Linked DNA regions of Homo sapiens. The protein of the gene in region 1 interacts with the protein of each later gene in a biochemical or structural test. Each region holds a gene or a part of one and is shown on either strand. Other genes may lie near its edges.

Region 1 (3,500 bases):
TTTAGTGTATTCATTTTCATTCTGGGACGAGGGGAGAGGAGATGAAGGTGAAAACAGAAAGCATTGGCATTTGGAAATGGCTGAGCTTTCTGTTAATTTCTTTCTTTCTTGCTAGAAATACTGGTAAAGTGTAAGAAAAAAACAATAATCAGAGAAAGAACTTCTCAGTGTTAACTAGCTATGTGCTCTATCAGGAAGCATTTCAGGTTTTCAAGTAGGATTTTAGTTAATAGTGCATGGTTTTTATTATACTTTAAGTTCGGGGTACATGTGCAGGACATGCAGTTTTTTTACATAGGAATACATGTGCCATGGTGGTTTGCTGCACCCATCAACCCATCACCTACATTAGGTGTTTCTCTTAATGCTATCCCTCCCCTAGCTCCCCATCCTGTGACAGACCCTGGTGTGTGATGTTCCCCTCCCTGAGTCCACCTGTTCTCCTTGTTCAGTTCCCACATCTGAGTGAGAACATGTGGTGCTAGGTTTTCTGTTCTTGTGATAGTTTGCTGAGAAGGATGGTTTCCAGCTTCCTCCATGTCACTTTTGACATGGACATGAACGTATCCATTTTTATGGCTGCATAGTATTCCATGGTGTACATGTGCCACATTTTCTTTATCTAGTCTGTCATTTGGGTCTGGACATTTGGGTTGGTTCCACATCCATGGTTTTTAAAACAGTGTTTTCAAAACTCTTTGAAAACTGTTTACCTAAGTATTAATAATGTGAAAATGGTTATTGATGTTAAGGTGAGATGCTGTATTTCATATGTGTGCAATAAATGGATATCATTCTTGAAGACTCATTGTGTCCATTAACAAATTGAGGTCTCTGAACATTCCTGTTTTTAAAAGGAAACTTTGTCATTGTTTACATAAAATTTTCCAAGCTTATACACTTATATATTAAGATCTGAAAGGCAAATATTCAGCAGAATAGCTGTTTGTGAACACAGTTCTAGGGTAATAACCCATAAAAATTTTAGTATAAATAAACAAGGATCAAAGTTATTACTCTAATTTTCTCAGATCCAGAATATTAAGAACTTACATATGCATCTTGGTGGTTCTGACCAGTCTCCATTACTACATGTTACATATTTAGAACCCTGAAGTTCATAGTAGGACTGGCACTGGTACTCGACTCTTGACCATGGCAGATACACTTTTTGCGGGAAGGACGTGGTATCTCCATTGCTAATAGGTGGAGGAGGCCCACAGTTTTCTGAAGAATCTGAAAAAAAATACTTTACATTGGGGAAAAATCAACAGTTTTATTGGAAACTTTCTGAATAAAGCTTTTTATATACTCTTAAATGTATCTTATTTGATTTCTTAGGAAGACATTTGTATTTTCAACCTTTTTTTTTAAGTTTCAAGGTAATTCACACTCAAATGAGGACTACATGTATATGTACACATATGTATTCATACACATATGTGTACATATACATATGTATGTTTCTATTTGTTTAATTCTAGTAAAAAGAAATACTTGAATAAAATACTTACTATAGCATGTTGGCAAATGGGACCAGCCATCTTCACCACACACTATGGAATCTGTGGTGTTTCCATAACTGCTTTCATATCCATCATAGCATTCATAGTCCAATGTGTCATGGAGCTTAAACCACATGCCATTACTCTTGGCTCTGGAATTCTCAAAAACAGGCATATCACAAAATTCTGAAACAAAATAAAATTGAGGATTGCTTTTCTATGCCATATGATGTACAACTCGACTAAGAAAGTCCCATTGTAGGAATAAAATTTACCAATCAGTGTGTGCTAATAAATTGAGTACTATTAAAAATAGTCCGACAATCAGTGTTTTTTTTGTGCTATAACAGTTAATTACAAGAGAAAAATACATTTCCCTATAATGATCCTTCTCATTATTCAAACCCTATGAAAAACATATTAAGACTATTTAGTCAGATCTATTTTTATTTGTGAACACCTCATTGACTGTTATTACAGTCTACCTTTATCACTATAATGTATTATTTTAAAGAAGATAAAATTTTGTGAATTTAAAAGTTAATGTACATATTTATGTACTCAGTTTACTGACAGGGTTTATAAGTTGGATTAAAATTATATTCATTGGATATACGTTCTATAAAAATTTTAAAGCATCTTTTATTTTACAAATCTTAGATCATTTATCAAAGCTGGTCAAATCAGATTGAAGTGTACAGCTTTGTCTTTTGCAGAGCCCGTGATAAGCATAGAAATTGAAAACAGTATTCTAGAAATGTACGAATTGATATTTTATAGCTCCCAAACCTCAGAGTAACTTTGAGATAATCACTTTCTAAGTGTAGCATTTTCTTTTTTCTCACTTAGATTAATATTTTTGAGATTCATCCATGTTCAATTACATATCAGTAGTCCTTTCCATTTCGTCTCATGGCTAAAAATAGTTGAATTGTACCCTTGAAAATGAAGTGGATTTTGCAGTATGTAAATTATATATCAATATGTGTGTTAAAAATACATTAAATGATTTATCTTTACAAATCTTGGTGAATGCCTAAAGAGGAAAGACAAAAAAGATAAACTTTTGCCACTGCAAGGTTTCCATTGTTCATTATGCAATCTCTTTATTAATAAATAATTACAAGTTGGGAATGTTTTAGAGAACTTTAGTTGTAAGGAATCCATTGCCAAGTATGAGGTTTGTAAACATTCAGCCCACCCACTTACTCTTTTTCTTTACTTGTTTTCTCTGTACTAGACAATAAGCTGGAAATAATTTTTTGAGTTGGTTCTCCTCAGTTGCATCATTGATACAAATTATTGAAGTCTCATTTTCCTGATGCTAGCAGAAACTCAGAATTAAGCACTCATCCCTTCCCTAACATGTACATCTTAAGAGTGTGAGCAAGGAATACAATACAAGCAGTTGATAATTTTGAAATACAAAGAAAGGGAAAAGAACAAAGTTTTTATTGACAAGTAATACATTGTGCTGATATTCCCATGCAGCTCCCTAACTAGTCTGTACCTGATGGGATTGCTTTTACGTAAAGGCAAATTGAATTGAGAGAGATGGAATGATCATCTTCCCAAGTAGCCATTACTCTAAAAAGGCAAAAAAGACTTAGTTTGGCACAGAATGTTAGATGATGTTAGAAGTATTTATATCTCTTTACTCCTAAAAGTGTTTTCTATCTTTTTCTGTAAAACACTATCACCTCAAAGAGAGGAAAGAAGTTGACAGAAACTGAGTGGGAATATGTAAATAACTTACTAATGCAAATTGGTTGTGTTGACCATCCATTTTGCAAACATGTAATTGATCCTGAAGAATTTCCCTCTGCTGTTGCATATCCTGGTTTACAATTATATTGTGTTTCTTCATTTAAAATATAAATAGAGGAAGATTCAGAAATGAATCCATTTTCAATTTCTACATCTGATTTTGAGCATGTTCCTAAAATAGAAAAAGTAGAGAAAAAAGTAAATATTTGTTGAATACTTCTTTTATAG
Region 2 (3,988 bases), on another chromosome or scaffold:
TGGCCAGCATGCATGCCAGAACACCAGTCCACTGCCCTAGATGACACTGTCTCCTGTCACCCTTTGCTGGCAGGAGAATCTGGGGGAGCAGTTTTCCTTGAGCGGAGATTCAGGTTTTTTCAGGTGAGAAGGTAGAAGCTTGCAGGACCCAGGGGTTACAGGATCTCAGCCTTGTTGGGGGGATGAGGGAGGCCTTTGAGGGATCTAGGGAGGTTGGGGCTTACAGTTGGGGCTGTGGCAGCCTCCCAGCCAGTTCTCTCCTTTTCTCCAGGTGGGTCTGGTGAGCTGGGGTCTTTACAACCCCTGCCTTGGCTCTGCTGACAAAAACTCCCGCAAAAGGGCCCCTCGTAGCAAGGTCCCGCCGCCACGAGACTTTCACATCAATCTCTTCCGCATGCAGCCCTGGCTGAGGCAGCACCTGGGGGATGTCCTGAATTTTTTACCCCTCTAGCCATGGCCACTGAGCCCTCTGCTGCCCTGCCAGAATCTGCCGCCCCTCCATCTTCTACCTCTGAATGGCCACCCTTAGACCCTGTGATCCATCCTCTCTCCTAGCTGAGTAAATCCGGGTCTCTAGGATGCCAGAGGCAGCGCACACAAGCTGGGAAATCCTCAGGGCTCCTACCAGCAGGACTGCCTCGCTGCCCCACCTCCCGCTCCTTGGCCTGTCCCCAGATTCCTTCCCTGGTTGACTTGACTCATGCTTGTTTCACTTTCACATGGAATTTCCCAGTTATGAAATTAATAAAAATCAATGGTTTCCACATCTCTCAGTGCCTCTATCTGGAGGCCAGGTAGGGCTGGCCTTGGGGGAGGGGGAGGCCAGAATGACTCCAAGAGCTACAGGAAGGCAGGTCAGAGACCCCACTGGACAAACAGTGGCTGGACTCTGCACCATAACACACAATCAACAGGGGAGTGAGCTGGATCCTTATTTCTGGTCCCTAAGTGGGTGGTTTGGGCTTACTGGGGAGGAGCTAAGGCCGGAGAGGAGGTACTGAAGGGGAGAGTCCTGGACCTTTGGCAGCAAAGGGTGGGACTTCTGCAGTTTCTGTTTCCTTGACTGGCAGCTCAGCGGGGCCCTCCCGCTTGGATGTTCCGGGAAAGTGATGTGGGTAGGACAGGCGGGGCGAGCCGCAGGTGCCAGAACACAGATTGTATAAAAGGCTGGGGGCTGGTGGGGAGCAGGGGAAGGGAATGTGACCAGGTCTAGGTCTGGAGTTTCAGCTTGGACACTGAGCCAAGCAGACAAGCAAAGCAAGCCAGGACACACCATCCTGCCCCAGGCCCAGCTTCTCTCCTGCCTTCCAACGCCATGGGGAGCAATCTCAGCCCCCAACTCTGCCTGATGCCCTTTATCTTGGGCCTCTTGTCTGGAGGTAAGCGAGGGTAACCTTCCCTTCCTGCTGTCTCCAGCATCCCTCCTTGGCCTTTTGGGGCCAGGCTTCATCAGCCTTTCTCTTCAGGTGTGACCACCACTCCATGGTCTTTGGCCCGGCCCCAGGGATCCTGCTCTCTGGAGGGGGTAGAGATCAAAGGCGGCTCCTTCCGACTTCTCCAAGAGGGCCAGGCACTGGAGTACGTGTGTCCTTCTGGCTTCTACCCGTACCCTGTGCAGACACGTACCTGCAGATCTACGGGGTCCTGGAGCACCCTGAAGACTCAAGACCAAAAGACTGTCAGGAAGGCAGAGTGCAGAGGTTTGAGGGCAATGAGTGTGGGCAGTGGCCTAAGGCAGAAACAGGGCAGGCGGCAGCAAGGTCAGGACTAGGATGAGACTAGGCAGGGTGACAAGGTGGGCTGACCGGGAGTAGGAGCAGTTTTAGGGTGGCAGGCGGAAAGGGGGCAAGAAAAAGCGGAGTTAACCCTTACTAAGCATTTACCCTGGGCTTCCAGGCAGCCCTGGAAGTCAAGAGAACACTCAGAAATGGGGAGGGAGAAGCAGTGGAAATCCATATGGGTTGAGGAGTAGGTAAGATGCTGCTTCTGCGGGACTGGGAATGCGCTGTTTCTCAGTGACATGGTCTCCGAGACCAGGAGGGATACACCTAAGGCAGCCTTTCCCTCTTGATGACTTCTACTTGTCCCCCCTTCTCAAAGCAATCCACTGTCCAAGACCACACGACTTCGAGAACGGGGAATACTGGCCCCGGTCTCCCTACTACAATGTGAGTGATGAGATCTCTTTCCACTGCTATGACGGTTACACTCTCCGGGGCTCTGCCAATCGCACCTGCCAAGTGAATGGCCGATGGAGTGGGCAGACAGCGATCTGTGACAACGGAGGTGAGAAGCATCCCCTCCCCCTACATTGCTGTCTCCCTGACGGCGCCCAGCCCGAGGAGTGGGCACTCGGCTCCGGACACTGTAACTCTTGCTCTCTACCTTGCTCACGGGGCCTCAGGCTTCAGTGCTTACCTCGATGTCTCATACCTCTGCAGCGGGGTACTGCTCCAACCCGGGCATCCCCATTGGCACAAGGAAGGTGGGCAGCCAGTACCGCCTTGAAGACAGCGTCACCTACCACTGCAGCCGGGGGCTTACCCTGCGTGGCTCCCAGCGGCGAACGTGTCAGGAAGGTGGCTCTTGGAGCGGGACGGAGCCTTCCTGCCAAGGTGACCTTTGACCTGTACCCCCAGGTCAGATCCTGGTCTTCCATCCTACTGTCTTCTCTCCCCACCTCAACCCTGCTCTTTCCTCACTTTGTTTAAACCTCCCTGTACAACTATCTCACTTCTGAGCCTTTTATACCCTGGAAACCCATGATCCCCCGTCTCTTTGGTCACTGTATCCCTGACACTCCCAGACATTTGACCTCATTTCTGACTCTCCCAGACTCCTTCATGTACGACACCCCTCAAGAGGTGGCCGAAGCTTTCCTGTCTTCCCTGACAGAGACCATAGAAGGAGTCGATGCTGAGGATGGGCACGGCCCAGGTTTGAAGACAGAGAAGGGAGGCAGGGCAGGGAACTGGGGGAAAATGGAGAAGGGACAGAACTGTTAATGCTGGAGCCTGAGCCACTCTCCTGGCACCCAGGGGAACAACAGAAGCGGAAGATCGTCCTGGACCCTTCAGGCTCCATGAACATCTACCTGGTGCTAGATGGATCAGACAGCATTGGGGCCAGCAACTTCACAGGAGCCAAAAAGTGTCTAGTCAACTTAATTGAGAAGGTGGAATCCTCCTATCCCTGAACTCGGGGGAATGGAATCTCGCTGATCTTCCAGGACTAGCTCCCTGATCATTCCAGCCCCTCTGAACAACAGGGCCCCAGGAAAATCTCCAGGTCCTATTCTGTCCTCCTTCCCTTTTACTTGAAGCAGTTTCTTGACTGGTAATTCCTCCATGAACCTCAGCCCTTGAGCCTCTTACTGAGAGCCTCCCTGTCCCAGCAAAGTCGCTGAAATCTCCCAATCACAGTATTCTATTTTCAATGCCATGGCGCCTTGTTCTCCTCACCCACAGGTGGCAAGTTATGGTGTGAAGCCAAGATATGGTCTAGTGACATATGCCACATACCCCAAAATTTGGGTCAAAGTGTCTGAAGCAGACAGCAGTAATGCAGACTGGGTCACGAAGCAGCTCAATGAAATCAATTATGAAGGTCAGAGGTTAGGGAATGGTGGGAGGTTCACTTTGGGGTCAGGAGGTTCAGGGTGGAGGGGGTCATGAGACTACCTTGAGGGCGACAGGGAGGACCACTTTGTAGTCAAAAGTTGAACAGCAGGATCGTTGGGCAATGGAGGTTAGTGGGAACCTGTTGGGGGCTGGAAGGGCCACTTTGTGGTCAAAGGGAAGTCCGTGTAATGATGATTAACTTAAAAAGTTGAAAGATGTGGGATTTCAGTTGCAGATTGGTCTCTGGGGTTAAAAGATGGCTTGGAAGACCAGGTGAGGTGATGGTCTCTTCCCTCTCCACAGACCACAAGTTGAAGTCAGGGACTAACACCAAGAAGGCCCTCCAGGCAGTGTACAGCATGATGAGC

The links. Proteins that work in one complex are often made in the same cells at the same time.
Region 2: the proteins of CFHR4 (region 1) and CFB form a complex in vitro, tested with the Homo sapiens proteins (one study listed by IntAct).

Annotation. Positions count from the first base shown.
Region 1 is NC_000001.11:196,905,052-196,908,551, reverse strand, and holds part of CFHR4 (complement factor H-related protein 4 isoform 1 precursor), read right to left. Parts: intron 3,445-3,500; coding exon 3,262-3,444; intron 1,692-3,261; coding exon 1,515-1,691; intron 1,250-1,514; coding exon of another isoform or gene 1,237-1,249; coding exon 1,054-1,236; intron 803-1,053; exon of another isoform or gene 1-802.
Region 2 is NC_000006.12:31,944,907-31,948,894, forward strand, and holds the start of CFB (complement factor B preproprotein), read left to right. Parts: upstream 1-1,188; 5' UTR 1,189-1,315; coding exon 1,316-1,379; intron 1,380-1,466; coding exon 1,467-1,700; intron 1,701-2,100; coding exon 2,101-2,286; intron 2,287-2,441; coding exon 2,442-2,615; intron 2,616-2,835; coding exon 2,836-2,937; intron 2,938-3,038; coding exon 3,039-3,175; intron 3,176-3,467; coding exon 3,468-3,606; intron 3,607-3,923; coding exon 3,924-3,988. Other genes in the region: complement C2 isoform 1 preproprotein, read left to right, coding at 74-123, 272-451.